Linked DNA regions of Homo sapiens. The protein of the gene in region 1 purifies or fractionates together with the protein of each later gene. This does not show direct contact. Each region holds a gene or a part of one and is shown in the gene's direction. Other genes may lie near its edges.

Region 1 (5,710 bases):
CAGCCTCCTGAGTAGCTGGGATTACAGGTGTGTGCCACCACGCCCAGCTAATTTTTGCATTTTTAGTAGAGACGGGGTTTCACCATGCTGGTCAGGCTGGTCTCGAGCTCCTGACCTCTTGATCCACCTGCCTCCACCTCCTGAAGTGCTGGGATTATGTTAATTATTAAATCTAGGAGGAGGACACAGCTGTTCCTCCACCAGGCAGTGGCGCCCGGCCTGGTCCTTCTCCTCTAATGGCTCCTTCCCAGGCTCCACAGGCCCTTCTTCTTTTGCGTGTGCCTTTCATACTCCGCTTGTGTGTTCTCATCCAAATTCAGAGCTTCCTCTTAGTTAAAACTGCTGGTGACTCCCAAGTCAATTTCCAGCCCAGACATCTTCTGAGCTTGAGGCTTTGGTCCGGTTGCCTACTGGGCATCTCCACCTGGATGCCATGGCTCATGCCTATAAGGCCAGCACTTTTTGAAGCCAAAGTGGGAGGATCACTTGAGCCTAGGAGTTTGAGACCAGCCTGGGCAACACTGTAAGAATCCACTTCTAAAAAAATGAAATAATTTGCATTTTGAACAAGCACTTCAAATAACATTTCCAGCCAGGTTTAGGACCACTATTAGTTACAATGTTAGTCCAATAAATTTGGAAATCTAGATGAATTTTTTTAACAGGTTGTAAGTGACCACAGGTTGACCCTGAAACCTCATAGGTTAATAAGCATAGCAGAAATGAAAAGGTTTTTAAAGATCTTCCTGCTACAAAGCCAAGTCCAGATAGTCTCTTAAGCTGCAGAAAGACCATAACTGCTATGTATTTCCCCCCAATTTTTTTTTATGAAAGCTTAAAATTTTAAACTTCTACAAAGTTTTAATCTAGTACCATGAACAGCTGTGTCCTCCTCCTAGATTTAATAATTAACATTTTGCCATATTTGCTTTATCTTATGTGTTTTCTTTTTGCTGACGATTTTCAAGTCAAACATTCTGATGGTTCATCCCTAATACTTCCTCATTTTCTAAGAGTAAAGAATTGTCACAAGCACAACACTATAGCACACAAAATAATTCAGAAAAGCATCAAATATCTCGTTCATATTTAAATCTCCCTAGTTGCCCCCAAAATGTTTTTATAGTGTTCTTTTACAAACCAAGATCTGTTTCAGTATAAACTATTCTGGGGCATTCCAAAAGGTGGTTAAGTTTTGGATTTTTGTTCCACAAGTCTGACAAGGCACAAAAACACAAAACACGAAAATTAAAAAGCAATCTAATAAATAAAAATGCAAAAATCATAGTCTATAGGCTGGGCGCAGCAGCTCACGCCTATAATTCCAGCACTTTGGGAGGCTAAGGCAGTAGGGTCTTGAGCTCAGGAGTTTGAGACCAGCCTGGGCAAAATAGCAAGGCCCCACCTCTATTAAAAGTAAAAAACTTAAAAAAAAAAAAAAAAGAAAGAAAGAAAGAAAAAGAAAAAAGGAAAAGAAATAGCTAGGTGTGGTGGTGTGTGCCTGTAGTCCCAGCTACTTGGGAGGCTGAGGACGGAGGATCGCTTGAGCCGGGAGGTTGAGGCTGCAATGGGCTGAGACTGCTGCACTGCACTCCTGACTGGATGACAGAGTGAGACCCTGTCTAAAACAAACAAACAAAAAAGGATATTAGCAAAGAGATGACAATGTATTCGAGGACTGACTTGTTGAGGGCATGGCGTTGAACCCTCAGCATCTTTCCCGTTGGCCTAGCAGCCTTGTAGTCAGATTTTACAGACGTCTCGCGTGCCTAAACCAACCAGGGTCATTCCGTCCCCGTCACAGAGACTTGTTCAAATAGCTCAAGCCCATCAGCATACGGTGTTAACCTGGCCACAGAGGTGATTCAACCAGCTAGAAGTTCAGTCCTTTTGCGGAGAATCAGCAAACGCTACAAATCAGGGCTTTCCTCCCTGAAAAGTCTGGTTGTTAAGACATTCACCAGCACACCACCTCGACTTAGGCCGTTCCCTTTTGCCCTTTGCCTTTCGAGGCATGCTTTTTCCGGACTGTGTTGCAATTAACCATTTCTCGTTGGTCCGTCCTGGTGTTACAGGCGCACTGGAATGAACGCAGACCCTTCTCTCCTCCCGGCCGGGGCCAGGAGGAGGGGTGGGGCGGGGCCTCTGACGCGGTCCCCGCCCCACCGTAGCGACGCCGCGGTCCGCCGGATCTCCAGCGCTCAGTCCGCGCCGCAGGTGGTGCTTGTCTGCAGAGTCATGACCTGTAAGTGGCGCGGCCGCGCGCTGCAGCTCGAGTTCGGGCCGCGGGGGAGGCTTTGGAGCGGCGCCGGCGGTGGCTCGGCCGGCTCAGCCCCTCCGCCCCGCGTCCCCGCCGTGCGCGGCCTTCCCTGAGGCGGGCGTCCGCGTGGGTCCGGGATCGCGTGGCCGGGCGGCCGGGCGCACTCCCGGGATTCCAGGCTTCCGGGGTGGCGGGCGAGGCCCAGAAAGCACCAGGCCACCCGGCCGCGCCGGCACCCGCCGCGTCCTGCTTGACAGAGGCTGATGGACGTGTATTTCTCCACGGTGTGGGCCGCGGTGGTAGGATCCAACTCCCTTGGGTGTTTTCAAGTTGCGTGACCTCCTCCAGCCCCGCCCTGCACAAAGGTGCCCAGGCGGTTCTTCGTCTCCCCACTCACTTTCCAGCTCCAGATTTTGACTTGGATTCTTGCTGTGTCACTTACTTTGTTCAGTGACTTTGTGCAGCTTTCCCCCTGCAAGTCCCCTGTTTCTTTATTTGTAAAATGATGTTAATGATACCTCACACAATGATGTTAATGTGTGAAGGACCTGGCACATTGCTTTAAATGTTATTCCTTTGTTGTTTCCTTCGCTCACAGTATTTTATTCTTTTTTTCCGCCCCTTGGTAAGGTCTTCGTTGTTAGATTATGATGAATATTAGGGCAGCCTTAAAAGTCTTCACTTTACAGATGAGATGGAGTGACGGGCGTCTCCTCCTCAGCATGAGGAACTGCCCAGTGGCGGGGTTTCCCTGCTGCAGCATGTCTGTAGAGTGGGTCATTTGCAGAATGATAGGCAGTCCTAAGCTTAGTTGAGGACCCCGCCCTTGTGGGTGAGATGTGTAGGAGAGGAAGCCATCAGCGTAGCCATGGTGAGCTTTATCTTTCCCACCCTCGGAAGCACAGACATGGCCCGGCACGTGGCTCACGCCTGTAATCCCAACAGTTTGGGAAGCTGAGGCACGAGGATCGCTTGAGTTCACGAGTCAAGAGTTGGAGACCAGCCTGGGCAACATGGCGACACCTTGTCTGTACTAAAAAATACAAAATTAGCCCGGTGTGGTGGCACGCCCCTTTAGTCCCAAACTACTTGGGAAGCTGAGGAGGGAGAATGGCTTAACGCTGGGAAATGGAGGGGAGACGTTTAGTGGATTTATCTGCTGTTCTGATAACAGCTCAAAATATCTGTTTGCCCCAGAATAATCCCAGCTTTTATTTCCTGTTTTAGTTTCCCTTCAGATTCTATAACTATTTAGCAGGCTGCCTTCAGGGTTAAATTTAGTGCTTCTCACTATATTTAGGATAGATCAAGGAATGGGACATCTGAGTTTTCCTTTTAGTTAACCCTGAGCCAAACAGGCCTTCATCAGAGGCCAGGGTTTGTCATTGTTGCCTTTTCTGGAGACATTTGCGTTGTTACAGGAAACACCCAAAAGAGATAGCTCTCTAATGGTAGGATTTTCAGACTCTGGAGCAGAGGTGGGATGGGAAGTTCGGGCAGGCCATTACTAATTGAAGGGGTGGGTTGCCCCTCCACACCTGTGGGTGTTTCTCGTTAGGTGGAACGAGAGACTTGGAAAAGAAAAAGACACAAACAAAGTATAGAGAAAGAAGTAGGGGGGCCCAGGGGACCAGCGTTCGGCATACGGAGGATCCCGTCGGCCTCTGAGTTCCCTTAGTATTTATGATCATTCTTGGGTGTTTCTCGGAGAGGGGGATGTGGCAGGGTCATAGGATAATAGTGGAGAGAAGGTCAGCAGATAAACACGTGAACAAAGGTCTCTGCATCATGAACAAGGTAAAGAATTAAGTGCTGTGCTTTAGATATGCATACACATAAACATCTCAATGTCTTAAAGAGCAGTATTGCTGCCCGCCTGTCCCCCTTCCAGCCCTAAGGCGGTTTTCCCTATCTTAGTAGATGGGACATAGAATCGGGTTTTATACCGAGACATTCCGTTGCCCAGGGACGGGCAGGAGACAGATGCCTGCCTTCCTCTTGTCTCAACTGCAAAGAGGCGTTCCTTCCTCTTGCACTAATCCTCCTCAGCACAGACCCTTTACGGGTGTCGGGCTGGGGGACGGTCAGGTCTTTCCCTTCCCACGAGGCCATATTTCAGACTATCACATGGGGAGAAACCTTGGAGAATACCTGGCTTTCCTAGGCAGAGGTCCCTGCGGCCTTCCGCAGTGTTTGTGTCCCTGGGTACTTGAGATTAGGGAGTGGTGATGACTCTTAAGGAGCATGCTGCCTTCATGCATCTGTAACAAAGCACATCTTGCACAGCCCTTAATCCATTTAACCCTGAGTGGACACAGCACATGTTTCAGAGAGCTCGGGGTTGGGAGTAAGGTTATAGTTTAACAGCATCTCAAGGCAGAAGAATTTTTCGTAGTACAGAACAAAATGGAGTCTCCTATGTCTACTTCTTTCTACACAGACACAGTAATAATCTGATCGCTCTTTCTTTTCCCTACACTAATAATTCCTGAAGTTTTGCAGAGCTTCATAGATTATAATGTGCTTTGGATCCTTTACTGCTGCGTCCCACCAGACCATAAGCAGGAACTATGTATCCATCAGGGTCCAGACAGGACATGGAAACAACACTAGTAACTCGAACAAGGAAAATTATTTATTTATTTATTTATTTTTTTGGAGACTGAGTCTCACTCTGTCGTCCAGGCTGGAGTGCAGTGGCGCGATCTTGGCTCACTGTAACCTCCAACTCCCAGGTTCAACTGATTCTCCTGCCTCAGCCTCCTGAGTAGCTGGGATTACAGGTGCCCACCACCACACCTGGCTAATTTTTGTATTTTTAGTAGAGACGGGGTTTCACCACGTTGGCCAGGCTGGTCTGAAACTCCTGACCTCAGGTGATCACCTGCCTTGGCCTCCCAAAGTGCTGGGATTACAGGCGTGAGCCATCACACCCGGCGGAAAATTTTATATAAAAAATTATTATCTGGCCAGGCGTGGTGGCTCATGCTTATAATCGCAGCAGTTTGAGAGGCTGAGGCAGGAGGATCGCTTGAGCCCAGGAGTTCGAGACCAGCCTGGGCAACAAAGTGAGACCCTGTCTCTACAAAAAATTACATAATTAAAAAATTAGCCCGGCATGGTGGTGCATACCTGTGGTCCCAGCTACATAAGAGGCTGAGACAAGAGGATTGCCTGAACTGAGTAGGTCAAGGCTGCAGTGGACCATGTTTGTGCCACTGCACTCCAGCCTAGGCGACAGAACAAGGCCCTGCCTCAAAATAAAAAATATTAGCTAATGGAAAGTGATTATCATAAAAGCTAAAAGGGAACTTTAAAGAACAGAAGAAAAGCAAATATGATGTATAGCTACTACCTCCAGGAAGAAATAAGCTTGGAAGAGCCCCCAACCTCCTTGCTCCAGGGCTGAGCACAGACCTTGTCAGGGCTGGCTACATAATTTGTGGGGCC
Region 2 (3,500 bases), on another chromosome or scaffold:
TGGAACAGATACCTTGTTCATTTAGAAAGTGTGTTTTTTGTCAAAGAATATTGCAAATGATGATTATAGTGTGGGAGGGAGACTAATAATTAACAAGGAAATTTAAATCTAGAGGAGCAGAAATGCTAGTTTTTAAAAGATAAATTTAGAAACGTCTATGAAAATATGGAGGACAATTTCGTGGTTTTTTTTTTTTTTTTTTTTTTGAGACGGAGTCTCACTCTGTCGCCCAGGCTGGAGTGCAGTGGCGCGATCTCGGCTCACTGCAACCTCCGTCTCCCAGGTTCAAGCAATTCTCCTGCCTCAGCCTCCTGAGTAGCTGGGATTACAGGTGCCCGCCACCATGCCCAGCTAATTTTTGTATTTTTAGTAGAGACGGGGTTTCACCATGTTGGTCAGGCTGGTCTCGAACCCCTGACCTTGTGATCCACCCGCCTAGGCCTCCCAAAGTGCTGGGATTACAGGCGTGAGCCACCGCACCCAGCCCAATTTTGTGTTTTTAGTGAGTCATTGATAACAAAAGATAACGATTATGGGATCTAGTTGCACAAGGTGTAGAATGAGGGACCTTAGAAATACACTTGGTTTTGTTCATGTAGCTAGCAATTCCCAATGCTGAGTTTTCATTACTTCAGGGTGATTTTTGCTTTTTGACTTTCTGCAAAATTCATAAAATGCTAATTTTCATTTCATAAAAACTCTTTTTTTTTTTTTTGAGACGGAGTTTCGTTCTTGTTGCCCAGGCTGGAGTGCAATGGCGCCATCTCAGCTCACCGCAACCTCCGCCTCCTGGGTTCAAGCAACCTCTGCCTCCTGGGTTCAAGCAGTTCTCCTGCCTCAGCCTCCTGAGTAGCTGGGATTACAGGCATGTGCCACCACCCCGGCTAATTTTGTATTTTTAGTAGAGACAGGGTTTCTCCATGTTGATCAGGCTGGTCTTAAACTCCCGACCTCAGGTGATCCACCTGCCTCACCCTCCCAAAGTGCTGGGATTACAATAGGCGTGAGCCACCAGGCCTGGCCTTCATAAAAACTCTTAACTCAGCGCTTTGCTCAACAAGTGACATAATAGAACATAAATGCTTTACAGGTGTGCCAAACTATTGTTTCTTCCCAGTCCTGTGGTGGCAGGAGAAGTTGAGTTAGCATGGGGTTTGGGGCCACTGAGCCTCTTTACCCAGTATTTCCTACCATGTCCATCATTTTCTGTTTGTGTGATGATGTGAAAAAAGTTGAGAGGCATTGTCCTGTAGGCAAGTTTTACCTGCTGTGAATAATTGAGGTTAGGAATGGAGGAATGGTTAGAAAGAAATCTAATTCTAATATTTTAAAAGACTATATGAGTCCCCAAAATGAAGGTTGGTGAGCTTGAAGATCATGAAGTTTCTGGAATAGATTATCAAAGGGATGGTTATTAGCACAGATAAATGTAGTAGATATTATTTGGGGTCAGTTCTGAGAGCAAATTATCTCTAACAGTTCATAGTTCAAGGAAATATGATTTTAGTAAGGGTTTGGCAGAATGTTTGTTGTTTTGTTTCTGAGACAGTGTCTTGTTCTGTCACCCAGGCTGGAGTGCAGTGGTGTGATCATGGCTCATTGCAGCTTCGACCTCCTGGGCTCAAGCCACTTCTCCCGTCTCAGCCTGCTGAGTAGCTGGGACTATAGGTGTGCTCCACCATGCCTGGCTAATTTTTGTATTTTTTCTTGAGATGGGGTTTCACCATGTTGCCCAGGCTGGTCTCAAACTCCGGGGCTCAAGCCTTCCACCCACCCTTGGCTTCCCAAAGTGCTGGGACTACAGGCGTGAGCCACTGCGCCTGGGCACAGATTTGGCAGAATTTTTATAATTTCCCTATTGACTATAGAAAGATAGTTTGGCTTCTAGTATATTTAAGGTGGAATCCCTATCTGGTTGAATAGATACATGTAAAGGGTGCTGATTAATGAATGTCAGCCCGGAGGGAGATTTCTAATGGCATATAATAGGACTTTACCTTCTTTCTTTCTTTTAAATATTTATTAGTTAGATACCTGTATACAAGGAATGCTTAAAATGTTTGTGAGTGACTAAAGGTAGCTGGGATAGTGATTGTGTTTTAGAGACAGTCTTGGGATCCAAAAAAGATCTTGTCTGACTAGAGCAGTGCCAAATGTAATAAGACTGCAGGTTCTATGAGGGCAGGAGAGGTCTCACTCACTGTTGTATCTACAACGCTAGCACAGTGTCTGGTATGTAGATGAACCTGTTGAGTGAATTAATGGAATTGAATAAAATGTTTGTTTCGACCAGTTGTCCTCAGACTTCTCTTCTAATCTTTCTTCCTTTCTTGATAGTTGATGAGACTGTATTTCATGAAAAATTTTTTTTTTTTTTTTTTTTTTGCTTTCGTTGTGAAGGGCTTTTTTTTTTTAGAAGGAACTTTCGAAGAATCATCTTTTGCCCTTAAAGACTTTATATTCCTAAAGAAAGGAAATTGACACTTTGCGGGGAAGAGAAGAACCTTCTGTCTTGCCAAGTGTTTTTGAAAAAATAGAGCTTCGTTACTCTTAATAGGTCAATGTGTTAAGTTCCCAGTTTAATGAATAGGAATGATTGAATTTAGCTCAGTAAAGCACAGTGTAACTATGACCATTTTTTACATTACATTTGCACTGTTTGCCTTGTAGTTCTCTTCTTCGGATATAAACAAATATTTAAAGTGCTGGAAAATCAGGACTGGACAGGTAAACAGAAACAAGTGGAATAAATAGTGGCTGCTCCCTTCCGTTTGGGCACAAACTCTCTAATTTGCCATGGTTCAGAGACAACCTGTAGTATTCTCAATAAGAACGTTATTGTTGGTTTTAAGGAAATTTCTGAGTTGTTTCTATTTGTTACCTAATATTAGTTGTGATACATTTGTGAATAGTAGAGACAGGGTAATTGAAAAGGGTTTGTCTTATCTAAACAAGATACTTTTTCTAATCAGCTCTAGTTGTAGTACTGTGCACCCAGTTTTTCCCATTGGGAGTTTTCGTAAGAGCAGTGAAGAAATCTAGATTTATAAGAATTCTGTTCATATTTTTAAATGTTCCTTTTTTTCAACATTCAGCAAAATATTATGTGCTAGGAACTCTCCCAGACGCTTGTTAACATCTATGAATACAACAAAGATTCTGCCCTCCTGGGCCTCTTTTCTGATGGGGAAGCAAAACAACAAATGATATATGTAAGAGAATTACATATGTACGAAGATGATGAATTCTATGGCGGAAAGAAGTGTAGTAGGTAAGGGGGATTGGTCACAGGTGGGCAGGTTAGTAGGGTAAGCTTCATGGGCAACATGAGATTTAAAGAGAAACTTGAAGGATCGGGGGCTTTTCCCACATGGACACCTGGTGAAGAGTATTCTAGGCAGAGGGTGCATTAGAGCCAAGTCCTGAAGGCAGGAACATGCCCAGGAATAGTGAGGGGATTAGTGCAGTTGGAACAGAGTGAGCAACCAGGAGGGCCTAGG

The links.
Region 2: the proteins of NIT2 (region 1) and SUCLA2 fractionate together in Homo sapiens (co-fractionation; one large-scale study listed by BioGRID). This does not show direct contact.

Annotation. Positions count from the first base shown.
Region 1 is NC_000003.12:100,332,554-100,338,263, forward strand, and holds the start of NIT2 (omega-amidase NIT2), read left to right. Parts: upstream 1-2,203; 5' UTR 2,204-2,238; coding exon 2,239-2,245; intron 2,246-5,710. UniProt on the Homo sapiens protein: Has omega-amidase activity. The role of omega-amidase is to remove potentially toxic intermediates by converting 2-oxoglutaramate and 2-oxosuccinamate to biologically useful 2-oxoglutarate and oxaloacetate, respectively.
Region 2 is NC_000013.11:47,991,274-47,994,773, reverse strand, and holds part of SUCLA2 (succinate--CoA ligase [ADP-forming] subunit beta, mitochondrial precursor), read left to right. Parts: intron 1-3,500. UniProt on the Homo sapiens protein: ATP-specific succinyl-CoA synthetase functions in the citric acid cycle (TCA), coupling the hydrolysis of succinyl-CoA to the synthesis of ATP and thus represents the only step of substrate-level phosphorylation in the TCA.